4 separate regions of the Homo sapiens genome follow, and regions 2, 3 and 4 are each linked to region 1. The links come from fine-mapping of genetic effects on gene expression. A gene starts in region 1. Each other region holds a variant in brackets. All regions are shown on one strand. Distances are from middle to middle.

Region 1 (7,725 bases):
AATATTAAGTGACAAATTTAAATAGAATTCATGGGTCAAATTAAAAAGTACTGTTCTGCAAATTTACAAGTACTTGAATATTAAATACTACTTCAGTATAGCTTTTTGAGGGAAGAGAAATTCACATTTTCTGGTTTCCTTCAGATTGCCTAGAACTAGTCCTGTGGAGTTGGCCAGGGCACATATTTTCTCTGGCAACTTCCGGTTCTAAGGTTCAACATTCCTACCCTGTTTCTAATGATTCCTTTCGTAGGTTGACTACACATACACAAATGAATAGTAGTGAAGATTGCCACCTAGTGCAGTGATGTTTATGATGGCACACATAAACACACATTTATATATAGGACTGTGATGTTAACTGTATTCCTTCTGAGGGTTATGGTAAAAAAAAAAATAAAACAGCAATAAGGTAGACTCTTGATTTTATAAACTGCAGTCCTCTAAGTATTTCAAGTATATTAAGATCATTGTGTAAAGCTGTTAATTAAATATATTATTAACAGGGGGCAGCCATGCCTAAAAAAAAAAAAAAAAAGTCCAGCACTGATTCGATTATTGGAAACCCCTAAGCAAGATAAAGAGGGCTTTTAACCCCATAAATAATATCTTTAATATCACATGATTACTACAGTTAGAATTTAGTTTTTATTATTTCATTTCTTTTGTCGGAAACAAACCTGGTTTAAAGAATGATTAACCATGGTTAGTTCTGAAAGAGGAAAATTATGTGAAATGTACATTTTATTAGAAAGAACATCATAATATTTTAAGAACGCAATTAACTCCAAATCTCTGTTTCCATCATCAATTGTTTTCCATTCCTTATCACATGTTCTTTGCACCAGCTGTTCCGCGGAAGTGATATTAAGAAGCAATGGTTAAGACTGTAAAAGCATAAAACATTCCAAAAAAGGACAGAATGCAATAGCTTCTAAGATATTAAAGTACAACTACACTGAAAGATAGAACAGATGGTTCTTGCATGAGGTCATAATCAATGTGATGAGGTTATTTGAAAATGGCTCAGCATTAAGTAAAATTTAAAAATACTACACTAGCCGGGCATGGTAGCTCATGCCTATAATCCTGGCTCTTTGGGAGGTCGAGGCAGGCGGATCACCTGAGGCCAGGAGTTTGAGAACAGCCTGGCAAAATGGTGAGACCCCATTTCTATAAAAATAAATAATAAAAATTAAAAATACTACACCAAGAACTATGTATAATTTCATCTTGCTTTTTAGTTTTTTTTACTATGGTAAAATTTTAAATTTTTTTGGTGTGGGATTTGGTGAGTTCCCACTCAAATCTTTTATAATGAATAAGTATATTGATGTCAATCTGTTCATACAATCAACATATATATATCAAAAGAAGTCTAACATCTTCATAATTTTTTAAGAATTAGCTGTCACACAAGTCTACTTACATGAATCAATGATGTAAGAACAACACATAGCAAATAACTTTATAAACCTATTAATGGCTTAAATTGATTTAGCTTACTTATTTGAATCAACAAAGTCAGAACACATAGCAAACCACTTCATAAGCAATGGACTTCAGATAGGAAGCCTAGGATTTGGGTTTTGAATATACCACTGATTAGGTGTATGACCTTGGGAAGACATTTAACCGTTCTACAAAATGACAGGTATTAAACCAGATGCATTACAAGATTCTAATATCTGTAATCTAGTATTTAATATTTGAATTGCATGACCAACTGGTAGCATGGAATAAAAAAAAATCACTCTATTTCAGAAAGTATTGCTTGGTATAATAGAAAGAACATAAATTTCCATCTTAAAGGACTTAAGAATCCACTTCCAGTTAAAACAAAAACAAGTCCTTTGATGTAACCATATGGTGCCCATAAATCAATTTAAGTTCCTAAAACTTCCTTAAAAGCTAATAAGCTTTTATTGGTTAATTATAAAACTGAATGAGGTGAGAAAAACACAGAACCTTGTTAATTTCACTAATGAATCAAATTTAAAGAACATAAAGAGGTCAGGGGCTTAACTGATGCAAAAATACACACTTTATTAAAGCAAGTTTTGCAATTTAGTTCAGCTTTAAGAAAAACATTAGAAAATTTACTTCGGAAAAGCAGAAAATGCTTAAATTTCCCAATTTCCATTTAGATGAGTATATATTCATATAAAGACTGGTAAATGGTGAAAACTATTTCAATGCAAGATTATATTTTAAGGGATTTACCACATAATCTCAGTAACTAATGCTGTTCTTTAAAATTATTTTTTCAATTTTATTTTCATATGAATTTAGCCTAAACGTTGAGGCATACTTCACGTTTATCAATAAATACTTATTAAATGTCTACTATTTAACAGGAAAGCTTTATAGGTGCTGGAGATACAATAATGGAAGATCAAGCCCTGCATTTAAAGACCTTAGTAGGGTAAGTGAGACTGCAGATAAAAAGGGCTTAAGAGGTAAGAAAGCAAGCTATAGTTGTATTTAGGAAAAAAGGTCCCCCACTTAGGAATCAAGGAACGGTTCCTGAAGCAAGTGACATGTAAGTAGGGACCTCCCAACCGTGTTTCCCATTGGTTACAACAAGGCCAGATGTTTTGGTCTATTTTGACTATGTCATATTTTTCGTTGATCCATGGCAAGGGCCACAGTAGGAATATAATATATATGTGATTACTTTTAGAAATAAAAAGTGACTTTGATGTAAAGAATTCCATTACCGGAGGCCAGAATTTCAACATCAATTTATTTGGAGGTGGAGTGAGGTGGCAGTCAATGCATTATTTTCCCCACACAGAAGAGAAGATTTTGGAGTATGAAAAGTAGGTTACTTGTTAGGTCAGCATATTCATGGGAAGGGTTGTGTAAAGACTGAAGCGGGAGTGTGGGGTTGAGAAGGGCGCTGAAACCTAAGCCAAGGAAGTTAAGACTTCATTACTTCTGACGTTTATTTAGGGGGTTTACACTCTAGGTTACCGTGGGGGAAAGACTGATTGTAAATAACTACAATACCTTAAAGTAATTACTATAACAGAACTATATCCGAAATACAAGGTTAACACGGAAAAGGGAACACCCAACTGTGCCTATGGGGACCAGGGAGGGCTCTCCCGGGATGGCTTTGAGCGAGGCGTGGGAATTATCCCCATCGCATGCCCGGGGGAAGCACAGCGGGACCCAGCAGCTTCGGCCAAGCGCAAGCGGCCGGAGAACGCGCAGCTTTCCCGAGGCGGGGTGACGCAGGGCCCTCGCGAGTGGAAAACAGGGGCCAAGTCGCGGCCTGGCGGCTCGGTTCGGACTTCCTACTTTATTCAAAGGGAGTCATTGAAGGCGTTTTCGGAGGAGCAGCGAACAAAGAGCTCGTCCGTAAGCCAGATGGTCAAAGGAATCAGTGGGAGGACCCGGGCGGCGCCGTCTCTCCACGTCCCGCGGGACTTACCCGGACAACCCTTCCTCCTTGGCTCTGGAAGAAGCCCCTTCGTCATTTACCAGTTTGGCCTGAATCCTAACTACTGTGCCTCCAAATTTCTGAATTTTCTCAAAAGGAAAAAAAAAAAGGAAAGTCCTCTTTCTTTACCCAAGCAAAGACTAGCTCCCCGGGCTCAACCGCCAGGCCCAGGAGCACCAGGAAGCGTTTCGAATCCAGCGCCGGGCCCGCGCGGCCCCGCCTCTTCCGGGAAGTGACTGACCCCTTTCCCCCAATGGGGCCCGCTCGGCTTTCCCTTGCCGGCTCCCAGCCGGCCTAGCGGACGCATGCGTAGACCAGCTGCCGGGGGCGCTCAATTATCTTTCCCTTTTACTTAGGCAAATCACTCACCTCCCCCGAGTCCGGTCACTGCGGAGCCGCCCGTGCCTACCAGCTTCCCCCACCCGCTAAGGGGCACTTCCGGCCTCTCAGACTCCGGCGGCGCGAAACCCCGCAACTGCGCAGGCGCGGGCGGAGCCCGAAGGGAGGGAGGGCGGGGCGCAGGCGCGGTTAGTACCGCGGTGGGCGCCGGGGCTCCCGGGAATCTACCTTCTCCTGCGGCCGGCACGCGGTTCCCAGGGGGCCAGCGGCGGTCAGCCGAGGTCGAGACGCCCGCAGGGTGGCCTTAGCGGCCGGTCGTACCACGGCAGCCCCGCCGATCAGGTTCCTTTGGGAGACTTCGACTTGTTGGCGGTAGGGTGAAGGCGCGCGCTGTCGCTTTCCCTTGCTCCGGGGTTCATCCTCCGCCCGCTGCCCCCTTGGCTGGCGACCCCCAGCCACCCGGGAGAGGCAGGGTCAGCTGAGCTGCGGCGGTGTTCATGGTCGTCCTTGCGGGCCCGGGCGGGAGATGTCCGTTCCTCGGGCGGGTCGGGCGGCCGGCGGCACCTTCGCGCGCTCTCCGAGGCGGCACCGGTCTCCTGAGCCGCGGGAAACCTGGCGTCTGCTCCGGGCCGTCCCCTCCCAGGCGGCCGTCCCCTCCCAGGCGGCCGTCCCCAGACTCTCCCGGGCTGTGGCGAATAACTGTAAAGCGGGGAGAGGTCTGGGGAAAGCTGGGGTAGGGAGTGGCTCTTAGCATGAGTCTGATGATATCTCGCAGGCGGCAACTGGTGTGTTTAAAGGGTGTATGCAAAGATCACTGAAATCGGATTTGTCATTAAAGCCCAGTTTTACGAAAATGCAAATTGTATTACCTAGAAAAATTAACATGTGTTCAAAGGTTTACTGATGGCATTTCTCTGCCCTCATTTCTTACAGAAATGAACCGGAGAAGAATCCCAATTGGGAATTGCGGAAAACAGGACTCTAGGGTAGAGAAAGGTTGTAGAACCAATAGGGTTTGAGGTAATACTGTGAAAATTCTTAGAGCAATCATTTGGTGTTTGAGCCCTCAAGACAGAAGTTTTGTGAGCGCTTATTACTCTGCATATGTCACGAGTAGTAGATTAAAAGCCAGTGTTTTAAAGGCAAACTTCTCAGTAATATATATTCAAAGGAAAAAAGAAAAACCCAAATCTCCTGACTTTTATATGGTTGCAGTGTGATCTTTTAACATGTACAATAGTATATACAGTGGCATGCAGTTTGTTCCATGGGTGTGTGGGTAGAGAGGGAACATATTAGAACTTCTATTTAGATTTATTTCATTTGATTTCTACGTGAAACATAGGGTATTAATTTTATGTTGGAACATGTATTTCAAATTTCTTTTGCTTAATGGGTGCAAGTACAAAACGTTTGGAGGCCACTAGTATATTGCCTAAAAGCGTGTATTTATATCACAAAAAGCCAGAATTGTGTGACTCTGAGCAGGTTGGTACCACCTCTTTAAGTTTCAGTTCTTCTTATGCAAGTTGGAAGAAATAATACAGTTATCAGTGCATCCTCTGTATCCGTGGACTCAATCAAGGGACTGAAAATATTTCAGAGGAAAAAAAGTGGATGGTTGCACAGACTTTTTTTTGTTCTTGTCATTATTCCCTAAACAGTACAGTATAACAACTATTCACATAGCATTTGCATTGTGTTAGGTTATATAAGTAATCTAGAGATAACTTTTAAGTATGTGGGGAGGTTATATGCAAATATGACACCATTTCATATAAGGGACTTGAGCATCTGTGGATTTTGGTATCTGAGTGAGAGAGAGGGGCTGTCATTTTGGAACCAATTCTTAGGGATTGACTGTACCTAGCTGACAGGATTCTTAAATATGTGGACACAGAGAGGAAGAGAAAGTTATGTAGTTATATATCGACATCTGTCTGCAATCCGTATAAACCAGTTAGTATTGAGCCTGGCAAAAAGTACACAAGTCATGTTAAAGGTATTACAGTGAAAAACAAGTTTTATTCCCCAAAGGTTTATTTTACTGAGTGTATTTTACTGAATCTGTAGAATTTTATGTAAAACCTACCTAAATCTTGACTGTCATTTTTAGACCAAAGTTAGGAAAAATAATTAAAGCTGTACTTGGCTTACTTTTAGGAATTAGTAAGTAACTCAAAATTTTACCGTGATAGCTTGCATTATATTTAAGACACAATTAAATGCCATAGTTCTTTATACACAACGATAAGTCCAGCTGACTGAGGGTCAAGCGTAGTTGCTTAGGTTAATGTTAGCATTTTTGATTCACTATTTAAACAAGTTAACATCTTTTCTCTCTGAGCATGCTTTTCTTGGTCACCAAATTCAAACTACTTCCAGTAGCTTCCTTAGCTCCACCCACAAATCTTTCTCCATTGCAGAGTATCCTTTACTACTGACTGGCCTCTATCTCAAAATACCTTAGGAGCACTTGAAACTCAGTGTTTTCTTTCTTTCTTTTTTTTCCTCTTTTTTTTTTTTTTTTGTTTGAGACAGAGTTTTACTCTTGTCGCCGAGGTTGGAGTGCAGTGGTGCAATCCTGCCTCCCGGGTTCAAGCGATTCTCCTGCCTCAGCCTCCGGAGTAGCTGGGATTACAGGCATGCACCACCACACTTGGCTAATTTTGTATTTTTAGTAGAGATGGGGTTTCACCACGTTGGGCTGGCTGGTCTTGAGCGCCTTACCTCAAGTGATCCATCCATCTCGGCCTCCCAAAGTGCTGGGATGACAAGGCGTGAGCTACTGAGCCCAGCCCAAACTCAGTGTTTTCAAATAAAATAAATTTCATTCTCCCTACTTGCCAAACCTGTTCCATGAACTTATAATGGCATTTAGTATTAAGTGTGAAGATGAAACACAAAATGAAGTTTTATAAAGCACACCCAAAGTTTTGATTGACTTTAATAGTAACATTAGAGAATCTTTTTTTTTTTTTTTTTTTTTTTTGAGACAGCTGTTCACTCTTGTTGTCCAGGCTGGAGGGCAGTGACATGATTTCGGCTCACTGCAACCTCTGCCTCTCAGGTTCAAGTGATTCTCCTGCCTCAACCTCCTGAGTAGCTGGGATTACAGGCATGCGCCACCAAGCCCAGCTAATTTTTTTTTGTATTTTTAGTAGAGATGGGGTTTCACCATGTTGGCCAGGCTGGTCTCGAACTCCTGACCTCAGGTGATCCGCCTGCCTTGGCCTTCCAAAGTACTGAGATTGCAGGCATGAGCCACCCGCCCAGCCAATAATAGAATCTTTTTTTTAAGTTTAATGAAGGATAGACGAGATGAAGGACAGATTAATAGCCAATTTCACTCTCTATGAATAATTAACTGTCAAACTTCAGTTTATGCCAGTAGGAACCTGGGCGTTAAAGAGGTTTAACTGGGTTTTGACAAACCTGGATTTGGATCTGAGCTCTGCTATGTTAGAGCTATAGAAGCCTTTGTATGTTAGAACTAAGTTGTAGCTACATAAATTCAAGTCATTTACTTGTGCCTCAGTCTCTCCTTTTGTAAAAATAAGGGCAATATTTATCTCATAAAGATGTTGGGGATCAAAGGAAATAGAAAGTGTTCATCTCAAAAGCTAAGTATGTAGTTATTCAGCAGATGTTAATTCTACTCACCCATTTGTACTCACCAATTCTACTAATTCAGTCTTTTAAATCTCTTGTTTTATCTCTTCCCTTTGTCCCTGATATTACCACTGCTTTTGTTTAGCAACTCATCTCTTCTGCTACTATTCTTACTTTCTGTTTCATCTATCTTCTATATTGAGCCACAGGATGTTTTCAGTACAGAAATCTAAGTGTTCAGATTTTATTAACTGAAATGCTGTGCTTTATACTTCCCGGTTTTGCTGATCCTGAAATTTTAGATGGGTGGACTTAATGAATAAGTC
Region 2 (7,725 bases), 40 kb before region 1:
CATGAGCCACCATGCCCAGACAGCTTCACCCTCCTTAAAACTGATGTATCTCTTCCCTACTTTTATATCCTAAGATCCTGAGCTTTAAAATAGCTAGCCAAACGAAAACACCAATGGAGACTCTTTGGAAGGGACTGTGCTCAGTCTGAGGACCCAGAGCCAAGTCACAGACATGACCTCAAAAGCCAGTACTGTGCTCTTCCACATGGCATCCACTGGCCACGTGTGGTGATTTAACATGTGAAATGAAGTCTCAAGGCTGAGATGTGATGCGAGTGTATAATACACACTAGATCTCAAAAACTTAGTAGAAATAAAAAATGTAAAATATCATAAAAAGATTTTAAAACTACATAAAAAGAAAAAAAATTTCAAAAGAAATAAAGACAACAAAACAAAAACATAAAATATCTCACTCATGATTTTTGTATTGATTACATGTTGAAATAACATTTTGAAATATCGTGTTAAATCGAATATAGTATGAAATTAATTTCACCTGTTTATTTTTTTTTTAAAGTGTGGCTAACAGAAAAGTAAAGATATATGGTTGGCATTATATTTCTTTTTTTATTATACTTTAAGTTCTAGGGTACATGTGCACAACGTGCAGGTTTGTTACATATGTATACACGTGCCATGTTGGTGTGCTGCACCCATTAACTCATGATTTACATTAGGTATATCTCCTAATGCTATCCCTCCCCCTTTCCCCCACCCCACGACAGGCCCCGGTGTGTGATGTTCCCCTTCCTGTGTCCAAGTGTTCTCACTGTTCAATTCCCACCTATGAGTGAGAACATGCAGTGTTTGGTTTTTTGTCCTTGCGATAGTTTGCTGAGAATGATGGTTTCCAGCTTCATCCATGTCCCTACAAAGGACATGAACTCATCCTTTTTTTGTTAAATGGCTGCATAGTATTCCATGGTGTACATGTGCCACATTTTCTTAATCCAGTCTATCATTGATGGACATTTGGGTTGGTTCCAAGTCTTTGCTATTGTGAATAGTGCCACAATAAACATACGTGTGCATGTGTCTTTATAGCAGCATGATTTATAATCCTTTGGGTATATACTCAGTAATGGGATGGCTGGGTCAAATGGTATTTCTAGTTCTAGATCCTTGAGGAATCAGTTGGCATTATATTTCTATTCCACAATGGTGGTGGATAAATGTTATATGAGGAGAGGGGTGATGCTATAAAGTATTATAAAGACACTGAAAATATGCTGTGGGAGGAGAAAGAAAGGAGAAATAATTTCACATGGGAGACCCTGAAAAATTTCCTGGAAAAAATGGCATCAGAACTGGGTCTTGACATATAGGATTGTAGGAAAAAGGCCTGGAGGCCTTTTACCCGGATGTAGGATGGGGATTTTGACCTCAGCCGGCTGGAGGACCCAAACAGATTCTGTGATGCTATTGTCCTCCAATTGGATTTGGTTTCCAAATCCAATTGCCCATCATTACCTGGTATAGATTCCTGCGTTTGTCTCAGATCTCATGAGCCAAGAGTCACTGGGGTGAGGCCCAGACATCCTCGTCCAGAGTTCTTCAAGCAATTGTCTTATAGCTCATTTGATCCCAGTCTGGGAAACTGTGTTTGGAAATGCTGGGTGCAAATGGTCATCTTTGGGCCTTGAGAGGCCAGCCTCAGTGGGCTTTCCATAATCCACAGCTGCAGGTAGCCATGGTACCTCCTGTCCTTGTATGTTCTTTGAGGAGAAGCACTGAGCAGGAAGCACCTGAAATGCAGAGCTTGGGAAAAAACAGCTCATGCCGTGGGCTCCTAGGTGGGTCAGCCATTTCCCCTGTGGAGGCAGAACAAGAAGGACTTTGTAGGCTTGTAGTTTCCTCAGTTACCACCTAAGTTACTTGTTAAATGGCCCTTCCTGCATACAAAGTGACAGGCCTCTGCCAGGAGTACTGATTCCCCACCTCCAAAAAAAAAAAAAAAAAAAAAAGTGAAAGAAAAAATTCGCCATGGGCGAATATTTGATCACTCTGGACAGTGATCAAAAGCTTTTTATACTTTCAAAAGCTTTTTATAACTACAGTATTAAAAGGAGGAAGAAAGAATGACAGAGAGGGGGACAGACGGGGAGAGAGTTTGTTATCCTGACTGCGTGTGGTGAGTGAGTCTATACTCAAAAAACACCATTATTTTCTTCTCCTTTTCTTCTGCGGCTCTCTACATCTCTCTCCCATCTACAGCAGAGTTTCTGTAAGTGTGGTCCAAAGACCATTGAATCCGAATCCAGTGGGGTGGAACCCAGTAATTTGTTTTTATAACAGAGTCTTCAGATGAGTTCTAGGAAGGCTACATTTGAGAGCAGTTGCTTTAGAGGTTTATGATCCCCGGGATTACTTACCTGGCACCTGATCCAGTACAGGCTGTTCCTTCCCAAGGTGTTTCCCTTTTCAATGCTGGTCAAACTCATCGTCCTACCCTCTCTCATTTCTGCCCTGTGTGCAGCCTTGGAGCTCAATTTGAGTTGTGCAATCACTCAGTGCCATTCTTACTGCGGCAGAGGGTACCTAGCTTCTTCGCAGGAGCAGAAACCCCATTATGTGCTGGAGGCACACAGGGAACCAGACAAGGTCCCTGTGCCAGGGAGCTCACTGTCTAGAAGAGAAGTCAGCGTGAGAGAGACCAGGAATGAGCTTCAGGCATGCAACAAAAATGGTGTATGTGCCCACATAAATTTTACTGGTGAGAAGATATGGAGATACAGGTCTAGATCTATAGGTCTAGGATATATAGTTCTATAGATATAGGATCTATAGATATGGGAAGATTTAGAGATCTAGATCTAAAAAGGCTGAGCTACAGAAGGGATTAATAATGAAGATGAGTGCTTCCTAATAGGAGTGCTTGCTCCCCAATTGGCATGCTAGCAAAATTATGTCAGGTAAGCATCTTTAGTAACTGTCATTAGCAAGTAAACTATATGCTCCAGAATGGGGAATATCAGGATGCAGAAAAATTTCCTTAGGTAGGAGGTCAAGGTGTCCCCCAAGGCACAACTCAAATGCCATTCGGGAACAGTCTGGTCTCACAATAGTTATATGTGGGTATGTATCCTTTCAGAGAAGAATGAGGTTAGTATGGACAGACAGTCAAGAAAAATGCTATAATAGAAATGGATTGTGAGTTGTACCATAAAGAACAATTGGCCAGGGCTTGCTGGGTAAGATTTGAAGCCACAGGCCCAGCATTACCTCCCACCCCTGTTGTTCTGAATGCTGGAACCCCAGCTGCATGGTTGACAGAGAATCACTGAGAAAACAGCTTTCTTAGGAGCAGCCCAATCCACACCAAAATCTATGCTGGGTGCTAAGGAGGGAAGATTTCTGCATCCGTAGCCATTCTTCCTAGAGAGAAACTTTCCCAAGAGCTTCCTCTCTGAGGTTGGGGTCGATCTGGAGAGAGCAGAAAGGATGCCTTGAGCTCCCTGTATGACCCCCAGCTGAGCACAATCCAGAAGTTTTTACAAGAAATGATGGTGGGGGGTGGGAAGGACCATTCCTTCTCTGGACAAGAGGTGGGGTGGGGAGTGGGGGCGGGGAGACTGCGGCTGGAGCTTTGAACCTGATCTCTCAACCTCGACAGGACAACTCAGCAGCCAGCAGCGGCTTTCTTATGGCTCCCAATTTGGCACTTCTAATGCCCCCTCTTTGAGGGTGGGGGATGGACTTTCCAAGGAGGAAAGAAACTTGCAGAATCTTCTAACTGGTAACACACACTCAGAATGTTTTAGGAGAGGCTGTAGTCAGAGGCTGTAGCCCCCATTTTTCAGGGGCCCTCTTGGTCAAAGTATGTATGACTCAGGCTGTGAATGCCAGATGAATTTAGGTTACAGGCATGGCCTCACTAAGAGTGCAAAATGATTTGCTCTTCTGTGCAGGAGCAAATTTCACAGGCCAGTCAGTCACCAGCCAGCATATTGGTTGTGCGCCTTTTCATGCCCACCGCACGGTGTGGAAGAGGGTCTGTGCTCTCTGCGGTTACCTGAGGTCCTGGTCTTGCCAGCTATCACTGTAGAGTCAGTTATGTCTCTGAGTCAGGGCTCATCTGGAGCACAAGGATAGTAACTAATTTTACCTCACTGGGTTGTAGTGAAGATTAAATGAGATAAAGCACC[C/T]GGCACATTGAAATATTTGTTAATGTGACTTGTTTCCTTCTTTTACTTTAACATAGCAAAGCTGCAGTATTTTAGTAAATCTGATACCAGTTATTTTGCACTAGTCATTCTCTGAAACTCAGTTTTAGATGGCTTTCTGGGTTCCCTCCAGCTGCAAAAATATAAGTATCTGAGACTCTGAGTTTGTTTCCAATAGGCTTTCTCTGGGTTGGAGAGACTGTTCCACAAAGCCCAGGAGGCTGCAGATGACAGTACCAAACCAAGACATGCAGCTGTCCGGCTGCAGTAGTCTGTGTGAAAGATGAGTAGAAAGAGAGGAAAAAGTCAGAGCTCAAGAAGAGCTCTAAAAGAAAAGACAGCTGCAAGTTTGTCCTCGAGTAAATCAAATTGTGACGTTTATTGGGCTATTTCCAGAATAACACCTGCAAGAAAACTGGAGTGCAGGATTACCTTTCCAAGAAGGATTTAGTTACGATAGCCTACAATAACCAGTATTGTCTAATGGAGTCAGTGTGGCTTAATGAAAAGGTTATAGGTTTGGCGGTGCACAGACCTAGGTTTTAGTTCTGTCGCTCCTACTTTTTATTAGTGATTTGGAGCAGGTTATTTAACCTCCATGCCTCATTTTCCTCCTCACTTAAAAAAAGGTAAATAATATGAACCTTGCAGGGTGATTGTGCGGGTTAGGAAGAAAAGTACTTGATATACAGCTGATATTCAATAAATAGGAGCTATATGGCTAGGAGCACATTACACCAGGGCACATATCCTAGAGGCCTCTGGACCTGGGACCATCATTTCTGAAGCTTATAGCTTGTTCAGGGTAGAGAACTGAGGGGGGTTTGGGAGGAGGCAGCAAGTCTGGGGTGGGTAGGTAGAGAGCAGAAAAGAGATCAAAAGGCCTATAAAGATCTGTCAAACTTTAAAATGCAAATCCTGTTGTGGCTCAGTAGAGACCAAATCTTTCATTATCACCTCTCTGGGAAGGGCTTGAGGGGTGGGGGGGTGGGAAGGTTAATTAGTCTTTCCCTTCATGGAGTGTTTTGGTTTCGTGTGGTGTGGTTTTGTGGCCAAGCCTGGGTATGTGATAAATCTTTTATTCAACTCTGCCCTGGAAACATGGGTAGAGTTAAGAAACTAACAGCATATGGTTTTCTTTATGAGTAGACCATGAGTTCCTCAAGGAAAGGAAACTATCTAACCCTTGTGATAGCTCCTACAGTTTGCAAGATTCTTGGCATAGAGTATTTGCTTCCTGAATGGATGGATGGGGTGGTGGATGGATGAATGTTAATTCTGAGCATAGTAAGTCATCTTCACTGGCTGGCAATTTAGTTCTCAGGGGTCTCCTTGCTCTATCCTTCACTGGGAGCCATGATAGGAGCAATCCTCATGATGGTGGCCCTCTGGGAAACTCTGGGATGGTGCAGTCTCTTCCAATGGCCAAGGGTCTGTGCAGTCCAATCACTTGGGCAGATTATGCTGCATGGCAGCTTTGCCTTACTGCTGGCCCTAAAGAGGTAGCCTCCTAGGTCCCACAGTTGGCCATTTATTTCTGGAGAGAGCGTGGAATTCCAGGAAAGTCCCACAGAGGAGACCTTCAAGAGTAAGTGGGCCAATAATTATCTGGCACTCACTGTGTGCCAGTCTCGATCCATCTTGCCCCTACCACAACCATGGCCAGAGTGAGAAAGAAGAAACCTCACTGCCTTGCTTTCTCTTTCCTCCTTTCCTCTTCTCTTGCCCGCGTTTTCTCATAAAACTATACTTGTAAGTAAAGAGTGAGGCTTTTTTCCAGAAAAAAGTATCTAGCAAATGTCCCTCTCTGGAATGCCCTAAAACACATGTCATTGATGACTCTTTCCTGGATAAACTCACTGATTCTCTAAGTCTCATCCAAGACCTGACAGTCTTACCCTCCCCCTAACTGGCATCCACCACAAAAGGCTCCTATCAAGTTTCTCAGCTCTAGGAGGCCCTATAAGGACCACCTGTATCTTCACTGACCACTCTCTTCTACATTCTGGTGCCCTCTGATACATTTCCCTTCACTCAGCACTTACTGTATTTGTTATCTCAAGAATAAATGAGTCTGGCATCACAACTAACTTATAAACATCTTGAAGGGAGGAAGCAGATGTTTTCCCATGTACTTGGCAGTATGCCTGTCCCAGGACTGAATCCATCTTAAGAATTCAATAAAAAATTGCAGCATGTTCGTGGTCAAAGCCTGGGCTTTGTCTTTACATAGATTTGGGTTGAAAAGCTAACTTGATTTATTCATTGAACAAGTATGTATTAAATGCATACTGCATATTAGGCACTGTTCAAAGCTCTGGGAATACAACAAAGAGTAAAGCAAAGTTTATTCTCTTGTTATGTTACTCTAGTGATAGGAGACAAAGAAAAAAATCTAATAAGTTGTAAAGAAAATAATACAGGGTGAGAGGCAAGTGTGAAGGAGTGGTGGTAGGAGTGGGAGGTGGCTACTTAGCTAACGTGCTCACAAAAGTACTAGCCAAGAGGCTGAGACCTCGGTGGTGATAAACAGCTTACCATCCAGAGGTCTGTGGGAAGTCCACACAGAGTGGGCAGCAATGGCAAGAGCCAGAGTGTACAGTAAGCTTGGTATGTTTAAGGAAAGAAAGCAAGCCATGTGCCAAGGGCCAGGGGAGCAAGGGGAAGCGACGGAGGATGAGGTGAGGGAGACAGGTAGCCACAGCTGCTGAGGAGGCTGGGATTTACAGAGGGTGATAAGAAGCCATGGGACGCTTTTACACAGGGGGTGGTTAGTATGTGATTTGCGTTTTCAATAGATTAATCTTGCTGATATGTGCACAACAGAAAGGCACGAGCATTTTGAAGCAGGAAGATCAACTGGAAGGCTGTTTAGCAGTTCCTGCAAGAAAGATGGTACTTTGGAGTAGCAATGCTACCTCCAAAGGTAACTGGGAGATTTGTGTACTAAGTGTGACCTCAGGCATGTTGCTTTCCTTCCCTGGACTGCTTTCAAGAGAATAAAAAATGTACTTAACATGATCAGCACGGGGCCTGGCTCATTGCAGATACTGTGCAAAGGTGATTCAACTAAGACATGAACACTAAAAAGGAGACACTCTTAACTCATGCACCACTAAGAACTTGCAGAGGACTCATCCCTGTGGTTAGAGCTTTGGAGAGTAAGGAAATGACTGGAATTCTGCCTGTCCCCCTCATCTTCATTCTGGGGGTTTTCATATGAAAACCCCCCAGCCTCCTACAATGTTGACTTTAATAGTTATTTAATTAACTTATTTATTTATATATTTATTTATTTTTGAGACGGAGTTTCGCTCTTGTTGCCCAGGCTGGAGTGCAATGGCGCGATCTCGGCTCACCGCAACCTCTGCCTCCCGGGTTCAAGGGCTTCTCCTGCCTCAGCCTCCCAAGTAGCTGGGATTACAGGCATGTGCCACCATGCCCGGCTAATTTTTTGTATTTTTAGTAGAGACTGGGTTTCTCCATGTTGGTCAGGCTGGTTTGGAACTCCCAACCTCAGGTGATCCGCCTGCCTCAGCCTCCCAAAGTGGTGGGATTA
Region 3 (7,725 bases), 51 kb before region 1:
AGTGAAGGCAAAGAGCAGACATTGGAGGTAAAGCTGAAAAGCAGAGCCTCGTCTGCAATGATAAGACACTTGGACTTTATCTTGGAGATGACAAGGAGCTTCTGGTGGGAGTTCGCAAGGGTGAGATTTGGTCAGCAGTGCACTGGAGCCTCACTCTGCTTGTTTGTGGGGAAGGTGTTTGAGTGTTCTATTGGTTCTCCAGGGTTCACAGGGAAACAGAACCAATAGGATGGATGGATGGATGGATGGATGGATGGATGGATGGATGGATGAATAGAGGTGAAGTCCCACAGTCTGCTGTCTGCAAGCTGTATACCCAGGAAAGTCTGTGGTATTGTTCAAAGGCCTGAGAGCCAGAGAGGCAACAGATGGTGTAGATTCCAGTCAAGATCTGAAGGCCGGAGAACTAGGAGCACTGAAAACCACTGAGGACAGGAGATTGATGTCCCAGCTTAAGGAGTCAGGCAGAGAGACCACTCAACTTTCCTCAGTCTTCTTGTTCTTTTCAAGCCCTGAGGGGATGATGCCCACCCACAGTATCTACTTTACACAGTCTACCAGTTCACATGCTAATCTCTCCTGAAAATACCCTTGCAAACACACCTGGAAATAATGTAGAACCAGCTACTTGGGCATCCTGTGGCCCAGGCAAGTTGGCACATAAAATTAATCATCACCCGTGGAGCACGACTAGAGGCAGAGTGCACCAGTAATATTCCAGGTGCTTAGCACAGATGAACCCACATTCATCCTCACAACAACCCTAAGGGGTAGGTGCTATTATCATCACCAATCCTGTTTTACTGATAAGAAATTGAGGCACAGAGGAGTTAAGTAACTTGCCCAAGGCCCCAGGATGAGAGCCTAGGCAGGCTGACTGGAGCCTAGGCTTTTACCCACCAGTTGGAGGCATCTGCACGATGGGCCCTGCAAAGCTGTTGAAGCTGGAACTCAGGCTTGACCTGAGACTTGGTAAATCCTAAAAGATTGATTGATTGATTCCTTGGCCCCATTCAGTCATGTATCCAGTGTGTACAGAGCACCTGAGATTAGCCAGAGTCCTGGGTCCTATAGGTACTAAAAAGATTAAGTAGGTTTAGACTTCTATCATCATTCCTAAATTAGATGGTTGGTTGGACATGACAGGCGTCCACATAACTACTTATTGCCCTGGTTAGCGAACAGGCCTGACTCTTATAGTTTTGAAGGAGTGCCGTGTGTGTATTTGTGTTTGTGTGTGCTCGTGTGTGTTGGGGGAAGGTGTTTGAGTGTTCTATTGGTTCTCCAGTGAAGCTGTATGTATGAAGCTGTTTCTGAGAAATAGTGTAATCTTTAGAGGCACCGCCTTCCTTGGCCATCCCCACAGTTATCTCAGCTATGATAGCAATAATAATAATAAATGTCTCTACTACTAAGTGCTACTAAGTGCTCCATTTAAATCTTATAAAAATATTATTTCTTTTCCTATCTTACTTTTTTTTTCCTTTTCTTTATTCATTTTTTTTTCTTTTTGAGACAAGGTCTGGTTCTATTGCCCAGGTTGGAGTGCAGTGGCACGATCTCGGCTCACTGCAACCTCCACCTCCTGGGGTCAAGCCATCCTCCCACCTCAACCTCCCAAGTAGCTGAAACTACAGGCATGTGACCCCATGCCCAGCTAATTTTTTTTCTTTTTCTTTTTTTTTTTTTTTTGTAGAGATGAGGTTTCACCATGTTGCCCAGGCTGGTCTCAAACTGATGAGCTCAAGTGATCCACCCACCTCAGCCTCCCAAAGTGTCGGGATTACAGGTGTGAACCACCATACCCAGCCTTCTGTTCCCACCTTAAATAAGAAAAAACTGAGGCTTATAGAAGTTAAAAAAAAAAAGTTACCCCAAGTGACCAGATTTGTAAGTGGAAGAGCACAATTTAGACCTAGGCAGTCTGACCCCAGGATCACAAGACTTCAGCGAGTGATGTTATGTTCCGAGAGAGGAGATAGGTGAACGAGGATTTTGGAAGGACCCCTCATTGTGAGGTTTGTAGTTGCTTTACATCTTTGGGTTTGCAGTTCCAGAATAGAAGGCAGCTGTCATTCCCTACCACTTCTAGTGCTTTCCCTGGCCTTAGGCCACATTATTATTATTATCAAGCAGCAGGTAAAGGTGATATTTAATTATATTTTCCTAGAATTAAACACTTTATATAGAACATTCTTTTAAAAATAAAATCCTTTTGTATATTAATATTGATAACAGTAATACACTTTCCATTTTTTGAGTACTTACAGCACGTACTCTATGCTAGGAGCTAAAAATAAGGGCCTTGCATACATTCACTCATGTCATCCTCCATACAGTCCAGTTAGGTAGGCATTATCATCATCTTACAAGGGAAGAAGCAAAGCTCAGATGCTAAGGACCTTGCCCAAGGTCATGGGACACAGCTTCTTTCCAAACCATAGCCACACCCATCGGCTCTGCAGCTGCCACACCGAGAGCCAGCTGCAGTACTCTCGCCCATCCCTGCCCTCACTGCTTGTCTCTGAGACACTCAGACCCTGCTGGCTCTGTGCACCCTGATTTCAGTAGCTGTATTTTGCTGTGGGGGCTCCTGCCCACCCTGAGCTCTACACACTCCCCTGACTTTTGTACACTCCATAGTACCTTCTTATAGCCACAGCCATACAGAACTCCACTGGCCAGCCCAGCCCTGGCCTTCCAGTCATGGGACAGAGCCTGTGTGTGTACAGTTAGACATAAGTTGGGCCAGGAGTGGTGGCTCATGCCTGTGATCCCAGCACTTTGGGAGGCCGAGATGCGTGGACCACTGAAGGTCAGGAGCTCAAGACCAGCCTGGCCAAGATGGTGAAATTCCGTCTCTACTAAAAATGCAAAAATTAGCCAGGGTGTAGTGGCCAGCGCCTGTAATCTCAGCTACTTGGGAGGCCGAGGCAGGAGAATCTCTTTAACATGGGAGGCGGAGGATGCAGTAAGCCGAGATCATGCCACTGCACTCTGCCTGGGCAACAGAGTGAGACTCTGTCTCAAAAAAAAAAAAAAAAAAAAAAAAGTTAAAAACCTGGGCCCTTTCACACTGCCACACAGTCTTGGCACTCAGCTAACATTCACCAGAAAATAGATAATTCTTGTGGGGCAAAGGGAATATAGGTGTGTGTGTATGTGTGAAGAAAACAACTAAGTGAAATGTGACATTTTCCTGTGTCCTTGAGTTAGCAAAGAGAACTGAAAGTGGTGCTCTCCTGCATGGATAGCGGCCTGGAGCTGCTGTGCTGTCAAGCCTGTGACAGTTTCAGCAAAGCCTGTGTGAGGCTCTTGGGACTGTGACTTTCATGTGACTGCCATTATGCTAAGGAAATAATAAAAGTAGTTGGGCCTCGTGATTTGACTTTATGGCTCATTGTAAAGCCAAAGAGTAACATTTTGGTTTTGATCCATTTAATAATAAATTGTAGAGCATCATGCAATGTGTGAACAGATGATTTTCACAGGCTGGGTATTTAACCCTTGGGCAGGACAAAGCAACAGACAAATAAACGGCAACAAAATAATTAAACTTAATTCACAGGAGAAGTGAGAAACAGAAGAGTTCTAAACTGTAGAAATCCTTTAGAACAGAGTCTTGTGGACTTCTCCAGCCTGACCAGAAGTTTTGTTTTTCTTCATCCCCTTCACTAGGTGGTCATGAGGAAAAGCAGCATTCTCCCTCCCAAACACCTGGGATGCTCCCTTTCTCAAGCACTTCCACTGTCTGGGCTCAGGACCCTGTCTCATCAGCTCGCTCCACAGTCAAATGCCTTGTGAATTTTCTTTGCCAAATGAATGTGCACAGAAGCCAAGGCAGCGTGGTTTACTCTAAAAAGAATCCAT[T/C]TGGGGGCAGCCATGTCCCTGCGGGGTCCCTGGCACCTGAATATAAACCTCTTTCTCTTTTGAAAATATTACTAAATATGTTAATTTGGGAACAAAATGCAGTCACCATGTCCACCCACAATGGGCAGTTATGCAGAAGATAGGAGGGTGGCAGAGAGGGGACTGCAAAGTGTGGGTGAAGAAACATAAGAGAAGAGGAAGAGGGTAATAAAAAGAGGAACAGAAGCTCATTCTCCCTGGAGAGCATCAGGGCAGGATGCTGTGATTATTCTTATTGCAAGGAAATATGAGCAGCTTGTCTTGATTCGGCAATCTCAGAATGTCAACATTTATCCCCAAATAGCCAAGTTTTCTGTCACCAACTCGGGAGGGGTAGCAGCCTTGAGTGCTTCTCCATGGATTCTTCAGCAACTGGCCAGCAAGATTTAAATGAAATCTCATGTGTTACATTTACACCTACTCCCCCTTTTAAGTTGGATTCTTTATTACCACTGGTATTTGGGGTGGCATTTTAATACCCATGTCAAAAAGTTGAAAGCAATTTGCACGGAGTTTGTTCTCCAAGGATTCTCCCCTGTTCTTACCAGCCTGAGAAGAAGAAAAGTGCAACATTACTTCTTCATTTTTCTTCAGTGATGACAAAAGTCCTGTTATTAAAGTGAATACTAAAAATGGTTGTCTGCATAATGAACCTGCTTATTTTCACAAACTTTAGCCTTTGCTTTTGAGTGTTTTCAATTCAGATTTCCATACTTGCCAGTTAACTGACACCTAAAAAGCAGATATAAGGCAAAGAAGAAATTGGGGGAAATATTTTTCAGTTTTTTGATACGGGATAGTCAAACATGACAGGTAAAACATTATTGCTATGAAGAACTCACACAGATAAGAAAAATACAAGCTTGCCACTGGGAAAATGAACAAGGGCATAAATAAACAGCTCACAGAAAAAGAAATACAAGTGGCTCATAAACATAGAAGAAAATGTTCACCTCGGTAGTAATCAAAGACATGTAAATGGAAATGACAAGGCAAGGCCGTTTTTCACCTCCCAAATTGGCAAAGTTGGCAAGAGGATGAGGAAGTGGTCCTTCCCACACATTGCTTGTGGGAGAGTCAGTTGGTTCAATTTTTAAAGTAACTTAAAGTCCAAAATTCATCTTAGATTCAAAAGTACTTTTGACACAAGGACTTTATACAACTAAACAAAGTTACAGTCAAATATTTAGGATAAAAAATATTCGCCATAGTCTTACAGTAAAAAATTAGAAACAAATATCTAATAGCAAAGAGGTAATTGCATACATTATTTCCTATTCATATGATGAAATATTATATAGTTGATAAAGAAATCATTATGAATAACATTTAATATACAAAGCTTAATTTAATATTAAGGCTTTTAAGTAGGACATATAAAATTAATACTTTGATCCAATTGAAAATTCTTTCTCATAGAAATATGACTAAGTGTTAAGAGTGGTTACTTCTGGTAACAGGAATTGAGAGTATTTTTTTCTTCATTCATCTTACTTTCTTCTAGTGGTTAGGAGCCAGAGTTCCTAGGCTCCAACCTTGACTTCTCTGCTTACTTAACTAAGTGATTATAAGCAGGTAACTTCATTTCTTAATGTCTCAGTTCCTCTACTTGAAATAAAGGGATAATAACAACAGCTACTTTACAAGATTGTTGTAAAGATCAATATACATAAAGAAATGTCATACTACTGCCCTCAGACATTGTCAGTACTCAATTGTTGCTATCGTCTTGACAGTTGTCAGTATTTTCTAAATTAAAAAAGATTACTGATTTAAAAATTAGAATTTCAAAACCAGTGAATGGTCAAGGCTGGCCTGATTAGGTCCATGTGCAAATGAAAAAGATTCAGGAATCACAGGCGCTCTCAAGTTGAATCAAAGCATATGGGTAGTACACTTATTTAAATATTTAAAAAAAAAAAAAAAGCAGGCAGGAAGGAAGGGAGGGAGGGAGGAGCTTCAGGTGGAAGTGCTCCTGTAAAGATGACTGGGACATTGACAGGTAGGATATAAGGTTTGCTGAGACCTTGTTGGAGTTCCGTGTTTCATTTGCAAAGAGTAGAAAGAAGTGGAGAAGAGACTCAGAGGAGGACAACAAGAAAGATGAAAGAGAGGAAATGTTGTTTCATGAAAAAAAGTTCCAGTCTTTTCCATCCCAGAAGTGTAGCTACTGAGCAGTTGAAGAACTATGCTCAGCCCCTTGTGGACTGAGTGGTTACCCTCCATCTCCAGCAGGTATGAAGCCCACGGATAAGCCTCTCGCTGTAGGGAATCATAGAGTTCACATTCACAGCATTCCCACACTTCCCTGCTATCAAGAATCACCTGGGGAGAGGGAAAGCATATTTTTAAAAAGACGGTTCCGCCGGGTGCAGTGGCTCATGGCTGTAATTCCAGCACTTTGGGAGGCCGAGGCGTGTGGATCACGAGGTCAGGAGTTCAAGACCACCCTAGGCAAGATGGTGAAATCCCGTTTCTACTAAAAATAAAAAAAATAGCCAGGTGGGGTGGCGGGTGCCTATAATCCCAGCTACTCGGGAGGCTGAGGCAGAGAATTGCTTGAACCCAAGAGGCGGAGGTTGCAGTGAGCCGAGATATTGCCACTGCACTCCAGCCTGGGAGACAGAGCGAGACTCCATCTCAAAAAAAAAAAAAAGAGGATTCCTAGGCTCCTCTCCTGGAGATTCTGACTTGGTAAAGTCAGAGCTGGGGCCTGGTAGTGTAACCACCCAAGGGTTCACCTTGCCCACTGCCTAGACAGAGCCCATTTATCAAGACAGGGGAATTGCAATAGAGAAAGAGTAATGCACACAGAACCAGCAGTGCGGGAGACCAGAGTTTTATTATCACTCAAATCAGTCTCCTCAGAATTCAGGGATCAGAGTTGTTACGGATAATTTGGTGGGTAGGGGCCAGTGAGTCAGGAGTACTGATCGGTTGGGTGGGAGATGAAGTCAGAGAGAGTCGAAGCTGTCCTCTTGCGCTCAGTCAGTTCCTGGGTAGGGGCCACAGATCAGATGAGCCAGTTTATCAATCTGGGTGGTGCCAGCTGATCCATCAAGTGCAGGGTCTACAAAATATCTCAAGTACTAATTTTAGGTCTTACAATAGCGATATTATTCTCGGGACCAATTTGGGGAGGGTCGGAAACTTGTAGCCTCCAGCTGCATGACTCCTAAACCATAATTTCGAATCTTTTGGCTAACTTTTTGGTCCTACAAAGGCAGTCTAGTCCCCAGTCAAGAAAGGGATTTGTTTCAGGAAAGGAGTAGTATTGTCTTTGTTTCAAAGTTAAACTATAAACTAAGTTCCTCCCAAAGTTAGTTTGGCCTATGTCCAGGAATGAACAAGGACAGCTTGGAGATTAGAAGCAAGATGGAGTTGAGTTGGTTAGGTCAGATCTCTTTCACTGTAATAATTTTGCAACAGCAGTTTTAATAGTCTCTAGTGAAGAACTGATGACTTGGACAGAACAAAGGCCTCCCAGGATACAAGAGCACTGAGCTGGGTGGCAGGATGCCAACAGCACCCCCAGGGCTGGCCACTTTGTCTAGATTGTTAAACAGAGATAAAACCACAGATACAGGGAGCAGGACCAGGTGATTGTTACACTTTTATAACTCCTTGACTTTTCATACTACTAAAATCTCTCCTGATAAATTCTCTGCCTGCCATTTAAGACTATTTCTGGTCTGGCCTATCCCAACTCTTCCAACTTTATGTCTTCCTGGTCCCCAGGCCCATTCTCTGCCTGATTCCAGGATAATGCTACACTGTCCATATACCACATTTTCTTTTCTTGGCCTTTGCCTGGCT
Region 4 (4,000 bases), 82 kb after region 1:
CACTTTGGGAGGCTGAGGTGGGTGGATCATCTGAGGTGGGGAGTTTGAGACTAGCCTGACCAACATGGAGAAACCCCATCTCTACTAAAAATACAAAATTAGCTGGGCATGGTGGCACATGCCTGTAATCCCAGCTACTCGGGAGGCTGAGGCAGGAGAATCGCTTAAACCCGGGAGGCGGAGGTTGCAGCGAACCGAGATCACACCATTACACTCCAGCCTGGGCAATAAGAGCGAAACTCTGTCTCAAAAAAAAAATTTAAAAAAAAAAATTTTTTTTTAAATAATAAACAGTAAGCAAAGTTTGACCCCCTAACTTTATATACAAAAAGTAATTTAGAAGTTGATCATAGACCTAAATTTAAAACAAGCTTCTAGAGGAAGAGAATGTCTTCATGTTTTTTTGAATGGGACACAAAAAGCAACCTACTCAAAAGAAAAGATTGATAATTTGGACTTTATTAAAATTAAGAACTTCATCAAAAAGTAACATTAAGTGATAAAAGAAGCTACAGACTAGGAAAAGATATTTGTGATGCATACATGCAACAAAAGACTTACCTAGAATTAAAAAATAGTAAGAAAGAGACTGACATCACATTTAAAATAGTCAAAAGGCTTAAATAGAAACCACTTTAAAGTATCTAAATGGTGAGTAAACACATGAAAAAGCGCTGTTAGTCATCAGAGAAATATTATTTATACCACAGTAAGTTACTGTCACACCGTTATGATGATGATGAAAATGAACAAGACTGGCAATATTTTGTGCTGGTGAGGATGTGGAATTGCAACTCTCATATATTGCTTGTGGGAGTGTAACTTGGTCAAACTAATTTGGAAACCTCTCTGTCGATGTCTGTTAAAGCAGCTCCATTCTTGGGCATAAACCCAAGAAAAAATTAGTGCTTATTTTCTCAAACAGATATATTTGAAAATGTTCAAAGAAGTTTTATTTATCATAGCCCAAAACTGAGAAACCCAGTGTCTACCTAGAGTCAAATGGATAAATTCGGGTATATTCAAACAGCGACATACTGTTCCGTAATGAAAATAACAAACTGCTGTTGCACACAACATAGATGATCTGACAATGGCGAGTGAGAGAAGCCAGTTACAAGGATGTACATAGTGTATATAAATCTGAAGTATATGTACAAAAGAGTATGTGTAACCTCTACATATGAAGTTCAGAAACTGTTAAGAGTGATTTTGGGTGATTAAAATCAGAATAATAGTTACCTTTTCAGGGATGGTAATATACAAATAGTTTGCTTAGATGCTGGGGATATTCTTGTGTCTTGATCTCAGTAGTGGTTACCCAGGTGTGTGTATGTATTCATGTAAAAATTGAGTTGTACACTTTTGTGTTCTTTATAAAAACTATTACTGTAATAAAAAAATGGAGAAAAAAAAGTATTAGAAGTGCTTGAATAATTTATCTCCACAGCTAACTATACAAAACAACTCAAGCTAGACTTTCTGATGTTGTCATCTCTGTTTTTCAAAAGAATACCAGAAGAATCTTTAATTTATGTGGCCTTCATTTTACTAATAAGGAAAGTGACACTGAAGTTCCATGATATGTTAGTAATAGATGAGAGGGTAAAAGCTAGATCCCCCAGATTTACTTGGGGCTTCATTTATTAAATTGGTGCAAAATACAGTGTGGGGGCAAGATTGCATCTTGGTATTTAGTTCTTGCTTTTTTATATGGGAATTTTTATTTGCTTGATTGTTGGTTTGGTTTGTTTAGACTTATGATAGGTGTAAAATTTTAGAGTATGTTTAGAATTGGAATATTTACCTTAGAATATTAATAATGTTAATATTAAAAAATAAATGAATGCTCACTTGAGAGCAGTATCACTTTTCAAACAGTGAATTGAAAAGTATTGGAAGCTATATGTCTGCTATTGATATGAAACTAGTTGTTGCTCTTTTTTCACCTTGTATGCATATATGTATATCTGGAATTTTGTCAAAAAAATAGAACCCTTCCTAATGTTATTGTATATTCTCAGGAAATTGTGTGAATGATTTGCTGTTAATTTTATTAGTTGCTTTCTTATTGTTTCCATGGACCTTTATTTAGTAAATAATTTTTTAAAGATTTTATTTAGCTTTTAAAAGAAATTTAAAATTATTTAAATTTTAAAAGATTTTATTTAGAATTCAAAATAAATACAATACAAAAGAAATTTTTTTTTTTTTTTTTTTTTTTTTGAGACGGGGTCTCGCTCTGTCGACCAGGCTGGAGTGCAATGGCATGATCTTGGCTCACTGCAACCTCTGTCTCCCAGGCTCAAGCAATCCTCCCACCTCAGCCTCCCAAGTAGTTGGGACCACAGGAGTATGCCACCA[T/A]GGCCAGCTAGTTTTTGTATTTTTGTGTGTGTGTGTGTGGAGATGAGGTTTCCCCATGTTGCCCAGGCTGGTCTCGAACTTCTAGGGTTCCTTTAAAGGATTCCTAAAGCAATCCTTTAAATCTTTTAAAAGATATATTTCAATGCATTTCTTTGGCCAGTGTAAGCTTTTTAAAGTTGATTTCTGTCCTTTTGACGTTCAGTAATCACTTTTAATGCAGCTTAACCACTAGGTGTCACTATAATTCAAGTAACAAAAAATCTCAGCACTTTTAAATGTTTGAAGCTTAAGTTTCAGGGTTAGGTGTGGTGGCTTACACCTGTAATCCCAGCACTTTGGGAAGCTGAGATGGGAGGATTGCTTGAACCGAGGAGTTCAAGACCAGCCTGGGCAACATGGAGAAACCTCAACTCCACCCAGAAAAAAAAAAAAAACACAAAAATTAGCTGGCCGTGGTGGCATACTCCTGTGGTCCCAACTACTTGGGAGGCTGAGGTGGGAGGATTGCTTGAGCCTGGGAGACAGAGGTTGCAGTGAGCCAAGATCACACCATTGCACTCCAGCCTGGTTCAACAGAGCGAGACCCTGTTTCAGAAAAAAAATTGTTTTATTAACATTTTTTAAATTAGCCTTTGGAATTTTGGTCTGTTAGATTCAGTTATGGTGAAAAAGGTTTTCAGTTTTATTCTCTTGCAGTAGAGCAAGAAGTACCATTATACGTATAACTGTTTTACTGTAAAATTTTTTGAAAGGAATGGGTATTTCCAAATCACTAAGTCATTTTATTCCCATCTCCTTTTTACTGTAAATCTATTATTTATCTGTCTTGTAAAGAATTTAATCTGGCCTTTCATTTACTTAGTTTTTTGTTCCTTGTCAACTCATTCTCTTCAAGGTTCAGCCTGGAGAAGGAAATAAAGCTGCTTTCAATGACATGAGAGCCTTGTCTGGAGGTGAACGTTCTTTCTCCACAGTGTGTTTTATTCTTTCCCTGTGGTCCATCGCAGAATCTCCTTTCAGATGCCTGGATGAATTTGATGTCTACATGGTATTGTTAAATTTTAAATTCTCTTTTTCATTTTTTTGTTTGTTTGAAACATGTATTTCTAAAGGAAGGAAATCTTTCTTTAGTTTTACCCCTAACAGGAAAGATCCTGCCCTGACTCTTTAGTCTGTGACCAGTAGTGGGGAAGAACTAAAGAACTAGAGTTCTCTCCCTTGCTTCTAGGCACACAGTAACCCTAGAGACCCTGGAGGGGTCCTCCTCTTCTCGCCCAGCATGGATATCCGTGCCTTCCATCATATCTGCGTTTTCTCCCTCACCCTCTCTCCCAGCTTATTTTCATCAACCCATAAATATGTTCAGACTTTTTGTTTTAATACAAAATTATAACCTGTTCACCACCCTGGCTTTGACTCACCCTAGCCACTGTTTACTGTTCCTTCATACCCACACATTTCAGAACAATGTACAGAACATAAGCGAGCAAGAACTTTTGAATTTCCAGTTAAAAAGCATAGGATTTGAGACCTACCTCTGACAGGCAAAATATCTCTACTTATTGGGTCTCAATTTCTTCATCTACAAAACAATATTATTACCAATTCCTACCTCTCATGGTTAGAGTGAGGCTCA

Alleles and levels. Positions count from the first base shown, and alleles are read on the strand shown. Sizes are in standard deviations (SD) of each study's normalised expression. Not every link is listed here.
For the expression in unexposed skin of the gene that starts at base 3,975 in region 1, C is the high allele of the variant in region 2 and T is the other (small effect, 0.24 SD a copy in GTEx).

What was found. PIP is the estimated chance that this variant, and not a neighbour inherited with it, causes the effect.
Region 2: its variant is the best candidate, but not a certain one, in a credible set for the expression of SMC6 in unexposed skin (GTEx, PIP 0.61).
Region 3: its variant is the best candidate, but not a certain one, in a credible set for the expression of SMC6 in lung (TOPMed, PIP 0.56).
Region 4: its variant is the best candidate, but not a certain one, in a credible set for the expression of SMC6 in blood mononuclear cells (TOPMed, PIP 0.74).

The regions. Positions count from the first base shown.
Region 1 is chr2:17,750,060-17,757,784 of GRCh38, reverse strand. SMC6 (structural maintenance of chromosomes 6) reads left to right here and starts at 3,975. Exons shown (of 28, transcript NM_001142286.2): 1 at 3,975-4,159; 2 at 4,721-4,807. It overlaps GEN1 (GEN1 Holliday junction 5' flap endonuclease), which reads right to left and starts at 3,647. Exons shown (of 14, transcript NM_001130009.3): 1 at 3,440-3,647. RefSeq lists silencers at 3,860-3,999, 4,140-4,499.
Region 2 is chr2:17,790,248-17,797,972 of GRCh38, reverse strand. The region is part of intron 3 of LOC105373449 (a long non-coding RNA gene); the gene reads left to right. Among named protein-coding and RNA genes, the nearest start is that of MSGN1, 22 kb to the left of the region's middle. RefSeq lists a silencer at 6,117-6,411. The variant C/T (reference allele first, on the strand shown) is at 4,149.
Region 3 is chr2:17,800,908-17,808,632 of GRCh38, reverse strand. No RefSeq gene overlaps it. Among named protein-coding and RNA genes, the nearest start is that of MSGN1, 12 kb to the left of the region's middle. The variant T/C (reference allele first, on the strand shown) is at 3,871.
Region 4 is chr2:17,669,835-17,673,834 of GRCh38, reverse strand. SMC6 (structural maintenance of chromosomes 6) reads left to right here. Exons shown (of 28, transcript NM_001142286.2): 26 at 3,260-3,412. Among named protein-coding and RNA genes, the nearest start is that of SMC6, 82 kb to the left of the region's middle. The variant T/A (reference allele first, on the strand shown) is at 2,365.